Linked DNA regions of Homo sapiens. The protein of the gene in region 1 purifies or fractionates together with the protein of each later gene. This does not show direct contact. Each region holds a gene or a part of one and is shown on either strand. Other genes may lie near its edges.

Region 1 (8,115 bases):
ACTGGCAGAGCCCACATTTCAGGGGCAGGAAAGGAACCCAACACCTTAAAACCAAGGATGTAACAATCTCTTTCTCTGAGATTTCAAGAGAGAAAAAAAAACAAAGCCAAAAATGGCATACCAACTTCTGCCAAAATTTTTCCTAATCGTACTGAATGATGTCAAGGATTTTTTTTTTTTTTTTTTTTTTTTTTTGAGACGGAGCCTTGCTCTGTTGCCAGGCTGGAGTGCAGTCGCGTGATCTCGGCTCACTGCAACCTCCAACTCCCTGGTTCAAGTGATTCTCCTGCCTCAGCCTCCCAAGCAGCTGGGATTACGTGCACGCGCCACCACACCCAACTAATTTTTGTATTTTTAGTAGAGACGGGGTTTCACCATGTTGGCCACAGTGGTCTCGATCTCCTGACCTCGTGATCTGCCCATCTCGGCCTCCCAAATTGCTGGGATTACAGGCACATGAGCCACCATGCCCGGCCATATCAAGGAATCTTTGATAGAAAACCAGAGAATTGCTCCCACAGAAAAAAATAAAAAGATATATTCCATATTATATATGCATGTGTACATTTGTTGCATATTATGTATATACATATACATAGACATTTTTCTAATGATCTGCAAATTAAATATATTTCATTTTATTTGGCACAGTTAACAAGATAGATCAGTATGATGTGGTTCACCAGGCACAATGCAAGGCTTTTGTTCCATGCAGTTTGCCCTTTAACAGTGGCCCTCTGCCCACCCCTCCTGGGGGTCTGTACTCTGCCCTCCTGTATGTGACTCCCGTGTGAGTAAGGGGAGTCCTCTCACTGCTTGTCAGTGCCGTCCACATTTAGTGCCGGGAAGGTCAGGCAGAAACCTGGGAGGTTTCCGAGAAAATGCTGTCCCCATTAAAATCATGTCCATTATCCCTAGCATCTGATATGCCCTGTGGCTTCCTGAAAGAGCCAGGTCTACCAGAAAGACTTAATTGGCTATTTTAGGTGTTCAGTCTTCATCTTACAGAAGGATTTGGTCTTATTGCTCATTTCCGTGGTTGTCTCTATTTAACCTGTCCCATTCACCTGGGTGAGCTGACCTTCCTATCCAGGAAGCCCGTGTGATCCGCAAGCATCCGGTATTTATTAAGCACAAACAGCACGTGCCTGTTGATGTCCTAGAAAATAATTCTTGCCCTTGAAGGGCTCAGAGACTAGTAAGGTGACAGGCACATGAACAAATAGTGACAGAAAGATGCAGAGTGTCTTTGAACGGTGGTCTGGGACCCTCAGCCTGGGAGGAGTTTGAGTATCTGGGAGACATCCCCCAAATTCTTGCTCTTCCTCATCCATATCGTCTTCAGGCCCAGAAGCACAGTGGTGTGGCTATTCCTGCAACTCTTTCAGCCTCTCCCTGGGAAGGGCTTTCTAATATGAAGTGCTGATGCCTGTCACAGCCTGCATGAGAGGTGGCTGTCAGTCTCCCTCCGTGGCTAAGGCAGGGGAATCTGTCACTCACCGAGTATCTTGGTTTTCTATTGCTGCATAACCAATCGCTCCAAAACAGGGGCCTGAAGTAGCATGCATCTACTATCTTATGGTTTCCATGGCTCCAGAGTCTGGGCACGGCCTGGCTGGGTCCTCTGCTCCAGGTCTCTCAGAGGCTACCATCAGTGGGTAGGGCCCACCACTAAACCAAGTCAGGCACTGGTAGGCTGTTTCCTCACGGGCTGTGGGGCTGGCAGCCTCAGCTCCTTGCTGGCCGTTGGCCATAGGGACCACAGTCACAAGGCAGCTCGCTTCGTCAAAGCTAGCAAGAGTCTGCTAGAATCTGCCTTTTGGAACCTTGTTGTGGAAGGAACATCTCACTATCCTGGCCGTAAATTTGATTGCTAAAAAGTACGTTATTTGTACCTTGTACCTTGAGGGCCAGCGCACACTCAAGGCACAAGGGTGGGAATTACTGGGGCCAGTCTAGAAATCCGACTATAGCACTGAGTAGATGCCCAGGTGCCAGCCAGGTCTCAGTGGCTGGGCAGGTGCTGGGGACAGCACACGGAGTGGAGCCTGGTCCTGCCCTGGAAACATCTGGTGTCTATTAGAGACACACAGACACGCAATGCGAATGTGTCTTCGGGCTACACAAGTGTCCTGAGGATGCAGGGGAAGTGCCCAAGAGAGCCTGCTCAGTCTGGACTCAGAAGGGTGGCTGGGACGGGATTCCCAGGATGTGGCCTGGAGCCCGCACATAGTGGCTCTAGAGGCGATGCGTGTTTGGCAAGTGCACTGCGGCGGGAGGAGGTGAGGCTGGATTCCTAGGGCTCGGGGAGCAGGAGCAGAGGTTCCTGGAAGGGTGAGGGTGGGCGGGTGTGAAGCAGCTTGAGGAGGCAGTGTTTGCAGAGCTTGGTGCCTCACCGAGAGGAAGGCCAGGGTGGAGGAGAAGGGTCCCAGTGGCACAGCCCCCTCTGCCAACTTTTAGGACTCCATGTCATGCCTGGAGGCTTTAGGCCCATGGGAGAGGCTCATCCTGTTCGCCTCCCAGTTCTTGAACCTCTCCAGCTCTGGTTCCTCCTACACCCAGCTGCCCCCTAGACCCTGAAAGACTTGGGTGGCCCCTTCCCGGCACTCAATGGATGCCACCTGGAACCAATCAAGCCACGGATCTTCCTGTCCCCATGCTAGTCACATTCGTGCTTTAACCTCCACTGCACTTGGACATTGGAGCTTTTCTCATCCCTGTTTTATAGATGCAGACCGAGGCTTCGGGAAGTGAAGCTGGTGGGCGGGGGCCAGGATTCTAGCCCAGGCTCATGGGCTCCAGAACTCCTGCTCCCAGCCACGGCACTCGCACCTTTGTGGCAGCAAAAGTCTGTTCTGTAGCTCACTTTGGGCTGGCTCTTTTTATGTGGGTTTACTCAAGGCTTGGAGGCTAATGGCTGATGCCCCAGTCTTGACAATCATCTAATGGAATAAACATTAACGAAGACCCTGTACCAGAAGGCATCTCCTTCCTCGAGAAATGCACAGACGGCGCCCTACCCAGGTAGCCTGTGGGAGCTCGGCTGAGCCAGCATAGGCCAACCTCACAGAGCGAGCACCAGACAGAGCTGAGGGACCCCGGTGCCATGAGTATTGGGACTGAAAGGCAGAGGACAGGAGGAAGAGGTGGGGCCCCCAGGACCTGTGCATCACCTTGCAGGCAGGAGGGAGCCATTGGAGGACTCTGAGCAGCCAGGTGATATGATTAGCTCTGTGTTCTAGGAAAATCGGTTTGGCAATGGTGAGGAAACAAAGTCTAGGGGGTGCAGAAGATGCGCCAGGGAGGAGCGCAGACCCAGGCGGCCTGGAGTGGAGGCCCTGAGGACTTGGTCATGGGCTGGACAGGAAGGAGCTGGGAAAGGGAAGAATCCAGCGAGTCTTTGTCCCCTAGGGCTGCAAGCCTGGCAAGGCTGCCCTTGTGCCCCCAAGCCCTGTGCCCATGGTGGATGCAGATGGGTGGACTGCAACCAACAGAGAGGCAGTCATTTCTACATTAGAGGGAGAAAAGGCAGAGCAAAGTGTCTTCTCTTATTTTGTTACAGGACAAAAGCCCCCAACACACACACACACACACAATCACCATTCTTCCATTGCATTCTGAGAAAAAGGCTCCAAATCTGTGAATCTTCCTGGGGTTATTAGCATAGACCTGTGTATATCTGGTTTATGAGGGCCACCTGGGAACCCTGGGACTCCCATCCTCCCTGCCCAGGTCACCTTTGCCCAAGCCTCTTTGGGCATGAGCCACTGTGTCTGGCCTGCCCATCTTTTTACTGGATTATCTGTCTTCTTTTTGAGTTATAAGAGTGGCGTGGTGGCTCACGCCTGTAATCCCAACACTTTGGGAGGCCAAGGCGGGTGGATCACGAGGTTAGGAGATCAAGACCACCCTGGCTAACACAGCGAAACCCCGACTCTACTAAAAATACAAAAAATTAGCTGGGCATGGTGGCACGCGCCTATAGTCCCAGCTACTCAGGAGGCTGAGGCAGGAGAATGACATGAACCTGGGAGGCAGAGCTTGCAGTGAGCCGAGATCATGCCACTACACTCCAGCCTGTGCGACAGTGAGACTCTCAAAAAAAAGTTCTTTATATATTCTAGTTACAAGTCCTTTATCTGATATATGCTTCACGAATATTTTCTCCCAGTCTATGGTCTTTTTTTCTTAAACATGTATCTTTTGAAGGGTAGGAGTTTTTAATCCTAATGAAGTCCAATTGATCAGCTTTTTCTTTTATGGATCCTACTTTTGATGTTATGTGTAAGAAATCTTTGCCTAACCCAACGTCATAAAGCTTTTCTCTTGTTTTCTTCTAGAAGCGTTATAGTTTGAGCTAAGTTAAGCACTTAGATTTTATTATCCATTTTGAGTTCATTTTTTTACATGATGTGAAGGGTCCAACATCATTCTTTTGCACATGAATATCCTGTTGTCCCAGCACCACCTGTTGAAAAAACTATCCCTTCCCCCTCACTGGATTTGCCTCCATCTACAGTCAGTTGACCATAAATGTGAAGGTTAGTTTCTGAACTCCCAGTTCTGTTCCATTGATCTATTGATATATACACCAACACCACACTGCCTTAAGCCGTATGGCTTTATAGTTTTGAAACTGGGAAGGCAAGCCTTCTTTGTTCTTTTCCAAAATTGTTTTTGACTACTCTGAGTCTTTTGCATTTCCATATAAATTTTAGAATTGGCTGTTTTCTGAAAAAAAAAAAAAGTCACCTGGAATTTTGATAGGGATTATGTGGAATGTATAGATCAATTTGGGAAAAATTACCATCTTTATAATATTTAGTCTTCTAATTCATGAACATGGAATGTCACTCCATTTATTTTTATCTTTTAATTTTCAGCAATGTTTTATCTTTTTCAGCATACAAGTCTTGCATTCCTTTGTTATTTATTTCTAAACATTTTATTCATTGGATGTTATTGTGAATGGCATTTTCATTTTTGGGTGTTGCTAGCACGTAGACATATAATTGACTTTTGTATGTTGATCTTTTATCTTGTGACCTTGTAGGACAGTCTTTTGGTGAGTTAGGAGCTACCTATAGTGCCAACCAAGAGAACCACAGACTAGTCAAGAGCTGGAGTTATCTACCTGCCTCCTACCTGTTGCAGGGACCTCCCTTTCAGCCCACTCAGCCTCAGCAGTTCAAAGGATACAGCCCTCTTCACTTCAAGGGGGTGCCTAACGAGCAGCCCATTAGAAAGCTTCCCCAAACCAAAGGACCAGTCTACCTGCTGCTGTGGAGCGAGGCACACAACTCCACTCCCTCTTCCTTGAGACAAGGCCACCTCTGCCTACCTCCTTCAATGAGGCCCCAGAACTGGGGACCAGGCAGCCCTCTCTAGCCTGGCCTGACACCTGAGCGCCACGGTCCCACTGCAGCCTGGTACAGCACTGCTTTCTCAGGGGCCACAGAACACCTTTGTCCCAGTAATGTGTTTTTAGGTCAAAGTGGAGAGGTTTGAGGGATAGGGGTTCTGTAAGTTTTGCGTATCTACTAATCCCTGGGACTCTTGGCTGCTCCCGTACAAGGCAGGGAGTGGAAATCAATGGCTTGCCTTCTGGACTTTGGTTATCCTGAGCTCAGAGCTGCAGTGAGTTCCTCTCTGTCAGTGCACAGCTTCATTTGGGGGACCCTTCAGGCACAATCCTCAGAGATGGGACCGTTTCCAATGGTGGTATGTGAGCAATTTCAGGAGACACGTGGGCCATCAACTCACAGTGAGGAAACTACTCTTTTAAAGTATCTTGCAGTCTCTCCAGTTATGACAAAGAGAAAGTCTCTGTTCGTGTTGGTATGTCCTTAGTACCCTCTTTAACCCTTGGTAATCCCCCAGGCCTTCAGGAAATGGCATAATTTCAATCCCTTTTGTTTTTCCTTGTATACTACTTATGGCAAGTAATATCAGCTTCCCATTTACAGTAGTATTATATAAGGCTGCCTTTCAAAATAAAGTTCTCATGGTCCCCAGCCCTGAAAAAACAATAAAAATAGGAAACATTAAAGAAAAAGATAAATTAAGTAAAAGCTTTTGATTTGATGAGGAAAAACAGTCACTGCCGTAGAGTGGCCTTGTACAGACACAGCCAGGGTGCTGGTGACATGGGACGTGTGAGGTCGGGGTATACTGGGCAGTGCCCAGGGCAGCAGGGCCCCTGCAGAGGTGGCTTCCTGGTCCACCCCGAGCTTTCCCGGGATCCAGCCCGCTAGCCCACAGCAGCAATCCCTGTGCTTCCCTCCCCCTGCAGGTGTGGCGGGCTGGGGCTGGTGCTGGCCAGCGCGGGCTTCGGCATGCTGACGGCACCCATCATCGAGCTGCACAACCAGAAAGGCTACTTCCTGCACCACATCATCTTTGCCTGCTGCACGCTCATCTGCATCATCTGCATCCTCCTGCTGCCCGAGAGCAGGGACCAGAACCTGCCTGAGAACATTTCTAACGGGGAGCACTACACGCGCCAGCCGCTGCTGCCGCACAAGAAGGGGGAGCAGCCACTGCTGCTCACCAACGCCGAGCTCAAGGACTACTCGGGCCTCCACGATGCCGCAGCCGCGGGTGACACACTGCCCGAGGGTGCCACGGCCAACGGCATGAAGGCCATGTAGCCCGGCCTGCGGAACCCGGGGCTCCAGGGTCTGGGGCAGCTTGGGCACAGGTTTACAGACCAGGGACCGAACACGCAGCCAGGGGTGGGAAAGCTGCCTCAGCCAAGCTGAGCCTCTCAACTGGTGTGGGGAAATCCTGTCTTTCCAAAAGTCCAAGGAGCGCGGGTCGGAGGAGACAAACTCTTTGGAAATAACCCTTTCAAGACTTTCTTTTCTGCCGTTAAATGTGTGTATTTATTTTGGTCATTTTTACGAGAAGCACTTTATTCCCTCTCCCTCTCACTGATCACAAATGGAATCACCTCCCTGGGCAGCGAGACGCAGTTGCTCTGGGAAGATGCCACAGTGACCAGGGCCATGGCCGGTCCCTCTGGGGAGATGGGACACGGCTCCTGGCAGCACCCAGGAGCCCCCCAGGCTGCCTGCCTGCGTGCAGAGGCAGGAGAGGACCGTGGAGCGTTTCCGGGACTGCATTTTAGACGGAGTGAAATGTACATGAATTTGGCTTTTGCTAGAGTCTGTGTATGGTTTTTTAAGGTCCTTTTTCCCTTTCTGTTTGTAAGGTAAGAGCTTCTGTTCGTGTGCAGGGAAAGCAGCTCACAGACGCCGTTAAAACCAGCTTCATCTTTCCTTCAGGATCATCCTTTTGTACTTGATGCTGGAAGCTCTTGGAGAAAAAGCTTAAACATTTCACCAGAAATCTTAATTGAGCAGCAGTCATATCGCCACAGCTTTGTGAGTACACAGCTAACAGATGCGTCGAGACCTGAGATGTGCTCGTTTTTATTCCTCCTCTCCCAGATTGGCTCCAGCAGAAAAGTCCCTCGTGCACAGGCAGCTCTTGTGCCGGCACTACTTGAAAACATGGCTACTTTCTAAGCTACAAACCATTAGAAAATAACTCAAAAAGATGGCAGAGGCAAATCCACAGAAGGGGGGCTGCCCTCCACACACACACGCCCGTCACCCACACCTTGAGCACACACCATGAAGATCACCAGCTTGGATGGCCGTCACCTCAGACATCACTCCAGGGAGCACCCGCAGGAGCTGGGCCCCCTCACGCCTGCCTTCCTGGGCCAGCTTCCTGCTTGCAGTCACTCGCATAGCACAGAGGTGGGGCTTCGGGCAGGGAGCGGAGATTCCTCATAGGTGAGTCCAAATGACCTCCAGCCTCTCGAAGGCATCAAGACAAATTGAAAGAAAGCAATAACTCACCAAAGCTCAACGCTGCCCCTGCCTCGACCTCCATGGGTCTCTTCGTGTTCCTCGTTTCACCCCAGAAAGTGGAGGTTTCCTCTTGGCATTTTCGGAGGAAACTTGTAGGACACCCAAGGCGACTAAGAGACAGCCTCCTTGGCAAGGGCAGGCACCACTTTGTAGCAACTTGGGCACCAGCTTTTCTGGACAGCCTGGCTTCTTACTGGCATTGTCCAACTCATCCCTTCTCGAAGCATGTCTTTGC
Region 2 (7,244 bases), on another chromosome or scaffold:
GGTACAATCATAGCTCACTGCAGTGTCTTGACTCGTGGACTCAAACAGTCACCCTTGTCTCAGCCTCTCGAGTAGCTGGGACTACAGGTGTGCGTCACCACACCTGGCTAATTTTTTTATTTTTAATTTTTTTGTAGTTATGGGGTCTCACTGTGTCTGGTGTCTTAACTCTTGGCTTCAAGAGATCCTCCTGCCTTGGCCTCCCGAAGTGCTGGGATTACAGGCATGAGCCACCATGCCTCAGCCTCCCAAAGTGCTGGGATTACAGGCATGGGCCACCATGCCTCAGCCTCCCAAAGTGCTGAGATTACAGGCATGAGCCACCATGCATGGCCTCTAATGCTATTAAATGTGATTTGATATTATAGTCAAGTAAAAAGTATTTAGACTTACTAAATTTTATGTTAGAGGACTATTCTTGGGTACAAGTGTTTTATTGGAATTTTTAAAAACTAATATCATTGTGATAACTCATGTTCATTGAACATTTATTGTGCAGCTGGTATTGTGCTTAGCAGTTTACATGCGTAAATTCATATAGTTCTATATTCCTAGGAGGCATTAGATTTTGTTCCCTTTGTTGATGTCAAGTTTACAGAGATTAAGAAACACATCCAAGATTTTAACTATTACATTAATACTGCCTTTAGCTTCAAGGAATACTGTGTTTAAAACAGGCAAAGTCAGGACTACCAAATGAGAGAGGAGATCATATTAGACATTTTAGTAAGATTGAGTTAATAGTTTTGCTCAGTTCTTGTGAAATGTCAGGACAGCATCTTTTACCTCTTTGCTCTTTGGGTGTTACTTACTTTTCTTTGTTGCTCATGGCTGTAGGAATTGAGGGGAGTGATGATGATGCTTTAGTAACTGGAGAACAGGATGAAGAGCTCAGCCGATGGGAACAGGAGCAGATAAGGAAAGGAATTAATATCCCTCAGGTACGACAAAAGAATTAAACTAAAAATTAAAAGTAGATTAAAAAGCCTTTTTTATTTTGTTAAAGTAAAAAATTCCGTATTGAATCTTTGTCATTCATTTCAAGTAACAAAATCCCATGAGGAGACACACACACACACACACACACACACACACACGCACGCACGCACACAGAGACACGTAGGCTTTTAGAAGAAACTGCAGTGTGTTCGGCTTTTTGCAGTCAGAATGATGGAGGAATTTCCAATTTCTTAGATGAGTTTTTCTCAAAGTGGTCCTTCAGTTAGCATTAGCATTACCCGGTAGCTCATTAGAAACGCAAATTACCAAATTATCAGCCCCCAGAGACCTACAGAGTCAGAAGCTTGGGGTGGTGGGGCCAGCAATCTTTGTTGAACAAGCCCTCCAGGTGATTCTGATGCACACTAAAGTTTGAGAACCATTGCTTTAAATGGAATGTTTTTGTGCGTGTAGCTTATTTTTTTGGACTTTAAGAATTATTTTGAAGAAGATGGATTTCTCAATAATACAAAAAACTTGAGATCGATGAAAAATATCTTCCCAGTTATAACAATTTGTTTTATAAAAGTAAGTAATACAGTGAGAAAAATTGCATAAACGTAAACCTATTTTTGTTAATAGTGTTTTGAGGCAGAATTCGCATACATTTGGGTGAAGTTAAGAAAATGGCACAATAGAGAAAGTCTTGGACTGGATGTCAGGAGTCTTAGATTCTAATCTCTGGTTGCCCATTGATTCTGTGACCATGGGCAAGGCATTTATCCTCTTTCATTGATCAAAGGTGGCCTTAAATGATTTTTGATGTTTCTTCCAACTCTGAACTCTGTTTTTCTGAAAATTATTAGAAATAAATTTAGTGATTCCACCAAGAGATAGGACATTCATTCAATCCTGCTTTTATCTAATTTTGAAGAATTCTGCAATTATTACATAATATTTGGCAAATAGGTATAATTTTTGCTGTTGATTTTTTAACCCTAAAGGCATATTATTATTTTCAAAGTTTTAACTACCAGATTTCATCTATATCCCATTTCTTTTCTAGGTTCAAGCCAGTCAACCCGCAGAAGTGAATATGTACTACCAGAACACTTACCAGACAATGCCTTACGGCTCATCCTATGGCATTCCTTATAGTTATACGGCCTATGGATCATCAGATGCCAAATCTCAAAAAACAGATAATACAGTCCCTTTCAAAACTCCCAGTAATGAGATGACTCCCGTTACTATTGATTTGGTAAAGAAACAGCTTAAAGACAGGTAGGGCAGATCAACTTCTTAAAGACCTGTCCGCTAGCTTTCTGTTCCCTCAGGCAACATGTAGTCTGGGGTAGCAGATGCAGAATATCAGCAAAGAAGATTCACTGGCCCAGCTTCAAAAGCTAAACAGAAGATGACTTCATACTTTGTTCTGCTACCTTCTTGGATTACTTCTGTGGAAGCCTCGAAAAATTATAAAAAATGCCACTCCATGATCTTGTTGAAGACATTTCTGAGTTTGTACCTCTTGGACTCTGAAAAAGTGTAGTCACGCTATGGGGGGAAAAGCAAAACAGTGAGATTTTGGTTAGCCCACAAAACTGTGAAATCTGTAAACTGCCATTTTTTGTTTTTTGAGAAAAAAAGCAGTACAGAGGAAAAGATGCCATTCCAAATATTTTTATGTTCTAATAGTGGAGCTAAATGCATATTTTAATATTGCAAGAGTCCTGACACCATAGACCTTTGGATGTAAATGTGTTATATTTATCCTTTTGTGTTCCTAAGGTTGGACTCCATGAAAGAATTGCACAAAACAAATCGACAGCAGCATGAGAAACATCTGCAAAGCCGAGTGGACTCTACCAGGGCTATTGAAAGATTAGAAGGGTCTTCTGGGGGTATTGGTGAACGGTATAAATTTTTGCAAGAAATGCGAGGGTATGTCCAAGACTTGCTTGAGTGTTTCAGTGAAAAGGTAAGAATGCAAAAATACTAATCTCTTTGAATAAGGCAAAATTAGGGAGGTCTAGATGGCCTTGTGTAGAACATTCTATAATTCTCAGAAAGTACCCACTGAACTCAACATTAGAAGTGATGAAAAGTCATGCTTCATTTTTCTTCACTTCATTAGTGGCATTATCTCTTAAGGGCAATATAATACCTTTGTTGAAAACAGAAATAAAGATAATATCTTAAAGCACATTTAAATAAGACTTTGGAAAGTCTTATTTCAATATGGTGGTAGATTATTATTGGCCTGTGCTGAATTCTTAGAATATAAGGGACTCATCTGATAAAATTTTCTTTTCTGGTTCAGGTTTAAACTTATTTTTAAACGTTTCTACAAGCAATTCTAAATATGCATATAAAGTTGCAAATTTTTATTAGTTTTTTTTTTTTTTTTTTTTTTACCCTGGATGATGATTACCATTGTTGCTAATAGTTTTTATCTAAGTAAGCCTATGCTTGATTTCTTTCAGAAACCATTTCATTGGATATCATTTTTTCTAAGGTTTCATTTCTCCCAAGTTTGTTTTTTTCAATAGGATAGTCAGTTGACAAAATGTTTGGCATTCTTATACTATTTATTGTTTACATTTAAAATTAGGTGCAAACAGCTAGTTTCTCAAATGACCTCCTAATTGATTTTTTTTCTTTAAGATAAAAGTATTGGTTGAGGCACTGGTTTATAAGCATTTGTGGACTTTGCAGCCTTATCTTTAAAAAAAAAAAAATTAAAACTGTGGTCCTTAAATATCCTGTCTGAACTTTGGATTGGAAGGCACATTTCCCTTTGTTATTGGCTATGTAGATTAGCTTAGAATCTGTAAGCATATAGTGTGGTTAAATATGTATTTCAACTTTTGTTATCTTTGTTGATTACTTGAATACCCTAAAACCAATGGCTGGGAAAAGATCATTGCCAGACTATGTCTTCCTGATGGATCTTTCTTCCTGATGGGTCTTAATGGTTCCAGTCAGTCTGTGGCCAGATTCAGGATGAGATAACATTCACCATGTCCTCTCTGTAGGGTTTCTCATGTTTTGTCTTTATCACCTGGTTTCTGGAGAAGCAGCTGCAGTCTGAGTTATGATACCACTTGTGGTGTATCAGTTGCTTAGGGTGGGGAAGAAGTATAGGCTTGTCTGTATTCCTCTGTGCCGGGAGCTGGAGTCAAGATTGGAAGTGGAACCTAAGTGTCAAGAGTTGACAGTCATGTCCTTCCTACTGGCAAAACTCTTCTGAGCCCAGTGGGCATGGTGGGAGCTGGTCTCATAACCTTTGTGACTAGAGAAAGGATCTTTTTCTTAAACTATGCTTTATGAGTTTGTCCCTGGAGAGCTGCTTCTTGAAGTGTCTTGGCGCTTGCTTCGGAACTTTCTTGAGTAAATTAAGACATTCATAATTGCAAACACAACTCTAAAAAATTTGACAGTAATATGATCAGCTAGATCATACCAAAAGTAGGACAACCTAGTTTATAGTTTTTAATTGTTGAATTATTAGTGTATTTCATCTCGATTACCTTGTTCCTAGAGAAGTTTACTTCAGATTATGCTAATGTGGTTATACAGAGTCACTTAGATTTTTTGGAACAAATCTTAAACCTTATACAGTGACTACGTTTTAATTAAAAGAGAGGTAGACATAGCTTCATTTAAAGATGAGTATTATATTTCATTCTAACATTTTCATGTGTATTTCATTTTAAGAGTACTGCTCAGCTTAGATCTTTAGAAGATAATCTTAAAAATAAAGAAAAAACAAAAAAGTACTGCTGAGTTGATAATATAAATTGTTATATTGGAGATACTTAGAAATAATTGGATACTTTGAATAATTATACTATAATAATATTTCAGAGTTAACCGTAAAAAGATAAAGATCCCTTTTTTTTTCCTCTTTGCTTATGAAAGTTTAGGTGGTTTTTAAAGAAGTTTTAAATATTTGTAAATCATTTTAACTTGCCATTGTTTTTGTTTCCCTGTAATTATCTTTCTTGGGTTCTTTGCCTTAACTTTGGCCCTAAAATAGTAATAATTGGTGAGAGTTTTGAGTTTGGAGAGGATAAAGAAATTGTCACGGTGCAGACTCTTGAGATAAATCAATATTGTTAAGAAACTTGAATGAGAGCTCACAGTCTGTTTAGGGCTTTTATTCTCAGTAGAGTTTTTCTCTGGACCTCCGGTAAAAGGCATTCCAGTTAACCTAAAGAGAAAAACTACATTGTCAGAATCTTAACTATATGTTGCAAAATTATATTCTGTATGATGCCAGCTTAGGTGGGTAGTTCCTACAGTACAGGAAGCTTAACAATCTCTAGGATTAAAAGATAAAAGAATGCCTCAGGCTCATTTATCTTTAGTACTTCATGGTTTAAAAAAAAAAATGAGGGCATGGGGAAGTGTAAATGGCAATGTTGTGGCAGTAATTGCTAAAAAAAAATCAGATTATAATAAATTTTAATGATAGAGTCTCTGGACTCAGCTATCAAGGATAATCATTACAGATTTGGGGACATTGTTGCCCATGGTGTGGCATATTAAAGAACAAAATAACTCCATTAGTTTGACCTTTCTGTGAACATTTGCTACTTTTGCAATGGAATCATGCAAGTATATAAAATTGCTTTTATTACAGACATCTCTGTATTCCACCTGCCTTTTTTTATTTTCCATTTGCAGTCTGTTCAGTTCAGGAAGCTGCTATAACACTTGGTGCCAGTGTTCCCAAACTCTAAATAATGTGTTTTCCATTTGCACTAACCATCAGGAAACTAGAATTTCTGGTTTCCTCAGGTATGTGTAGTGGTCATTAGTGTTACGTGAAAGTCTCATAGCATTTGATTATAACATAAGGTATTTAGAAAAAGAAAGTTTTCTGTTTTAAGTTAGCTCTCATGTTCTTTTGTATTCTATATGAATCAAGTAAATGCTTTAGGGATATTAACCTGGAAAAATTATTGACTTTGTAAGTTCACAATTCATGTAAAGAAATTTTTATAAAATATGGGAGAATTTAAACATTTGACAGGAAGAGAACAACTTTTTAAATTTGAGATATATTGAGTTCAGAGAGGTTAGTGATAGCTGGAAATTTTATTCGCCCTAGTAATTATTTTGTTTACATTAAAAAATCTGTAATAAAGCTACAAAATAGTAAACAGATTACTGTAACGTACTTGGTACATATGAGTGGCAGAGCAACTGAAATGTCCAAAATTGGAGAATTAGCAGACTCTTGTTCTTACCTACTTATAGAGCCATTGCACTTTTTTGGTACCACACAGTGATAATGTTTTACTTTGAACTACAAAAATCGCAATGCAGATAATGCTGCTGGAAAATTAAAAATAGATATTAAAAAGACTTCTAAGTACTTAAATATTCTCTAAGGGAAAAGCTCTAAAATTGTTGACATTTCTTTACTTGTTCTATGAATACTGAAGTGTTACATTTCTTAACTAATGTTTGCTCCAATAACTAGGCACTGGACATTATAGCTCTATGCATGGATTAAAAGAAGAAGTGTCGTTTCCCAAACATAAAACAGAATTTGCTACTTGTGTGCTGTTGGGGATTCATGATTATTCTGTCCATAGAGAGGGTACTTTTTCAGAAATCCGGAAATAGTATGGAACCCTCAAATAAATAAGCAGCTGAGGAGTTTGGTGTTACGGAGTGTGTTGTATTTTTACAGGTGCCACTGATTAATGAACTTGAATCAGCAATACATCAGCTGTACAAACAGCGAGCTTCCCGCCTTGTCCAAAGACGACAAGATGATATTAAAGATGAATCTTCGGAGTTTTCAAGCCATTCAAGTCAGTCCATCTTGAAGGTTTTTATTATTCATTAAACAACCTTGTTTACTTAGTGCAGCCTAATTGAAAATTAGAGATCTTGGAGCTTTTTTTTTTTTTTTTAAAGAAACAATTTCCTTGCTGTTGTGTCAGGTAGATCTAAAAATGGTAACAGCATGTACTTGAATTGTGTTTAAGAAAATAGAGCTTCACAAAGGAGCTCAAAAACGTGCTAAGATTCTGTCAGTCTTCTTATTCTTTGGGCATATTTTTTCATTCTCCTTTAGAGTATAGAAAAGACATTATCCGTATTTTATGTTAAAACCATTATCTGTTTGGCCCTAATTGGTTTTTTCCCCCATTTTCATTCAAAACACCAATACAAATAAATGCTTTTGTTGATCACAGTGAAAGAGTTTGAGTTTAGGGACTGGGACATGTTGTGGGTAGGGGGAGGGAAGCTATAACTTAACAAATGACACAACTCCAAGATAG

What was found. Proteins that work in one complex are often made in the same cells at the same time.
Region 2: the proteins of SLC22A23 (region 1) and PAXBP1 purify together in Homo sapiens (affinity purification with mass spectrometry; 2 studies listed by BioGRID and IntAct, with this or other methods). This does not show direct contact.

What each region holds. Positions count from the first base shown.
Region 1 is NC_000006.12:3,271,590-3,279,704, reverse strand, and holds part of SLC22A23 (solute carrier family 22 member 23), read left to right. Parts: intron 1-6,292; coding exon 6,293-6,650; 3' UTR 6,651-8,115.
Region 2 is NC_000021.9:32,754,756-32,761,999, reverse strand, and holds part of PAXBP1 (PAX3- and PAX7-binding protein 1), read left to right. Parts: intron 1-837; coding exon 838-941; intron 942-2,005; coding exon 2,006-2,223; intron 2,224-2,730; coding exon 2,731-2,920; intron 2,921-3,311; exon of another isoform or gene 3,312-6,646; coding exon 6,647-6,770; exon of another isoform or gene 6,771-7,244. UniProt on the Homo sapiens protein: Adapter protein linking the transcription factors PAX3 and PAX7 to the histone methylation machinery and involved in myogenesis.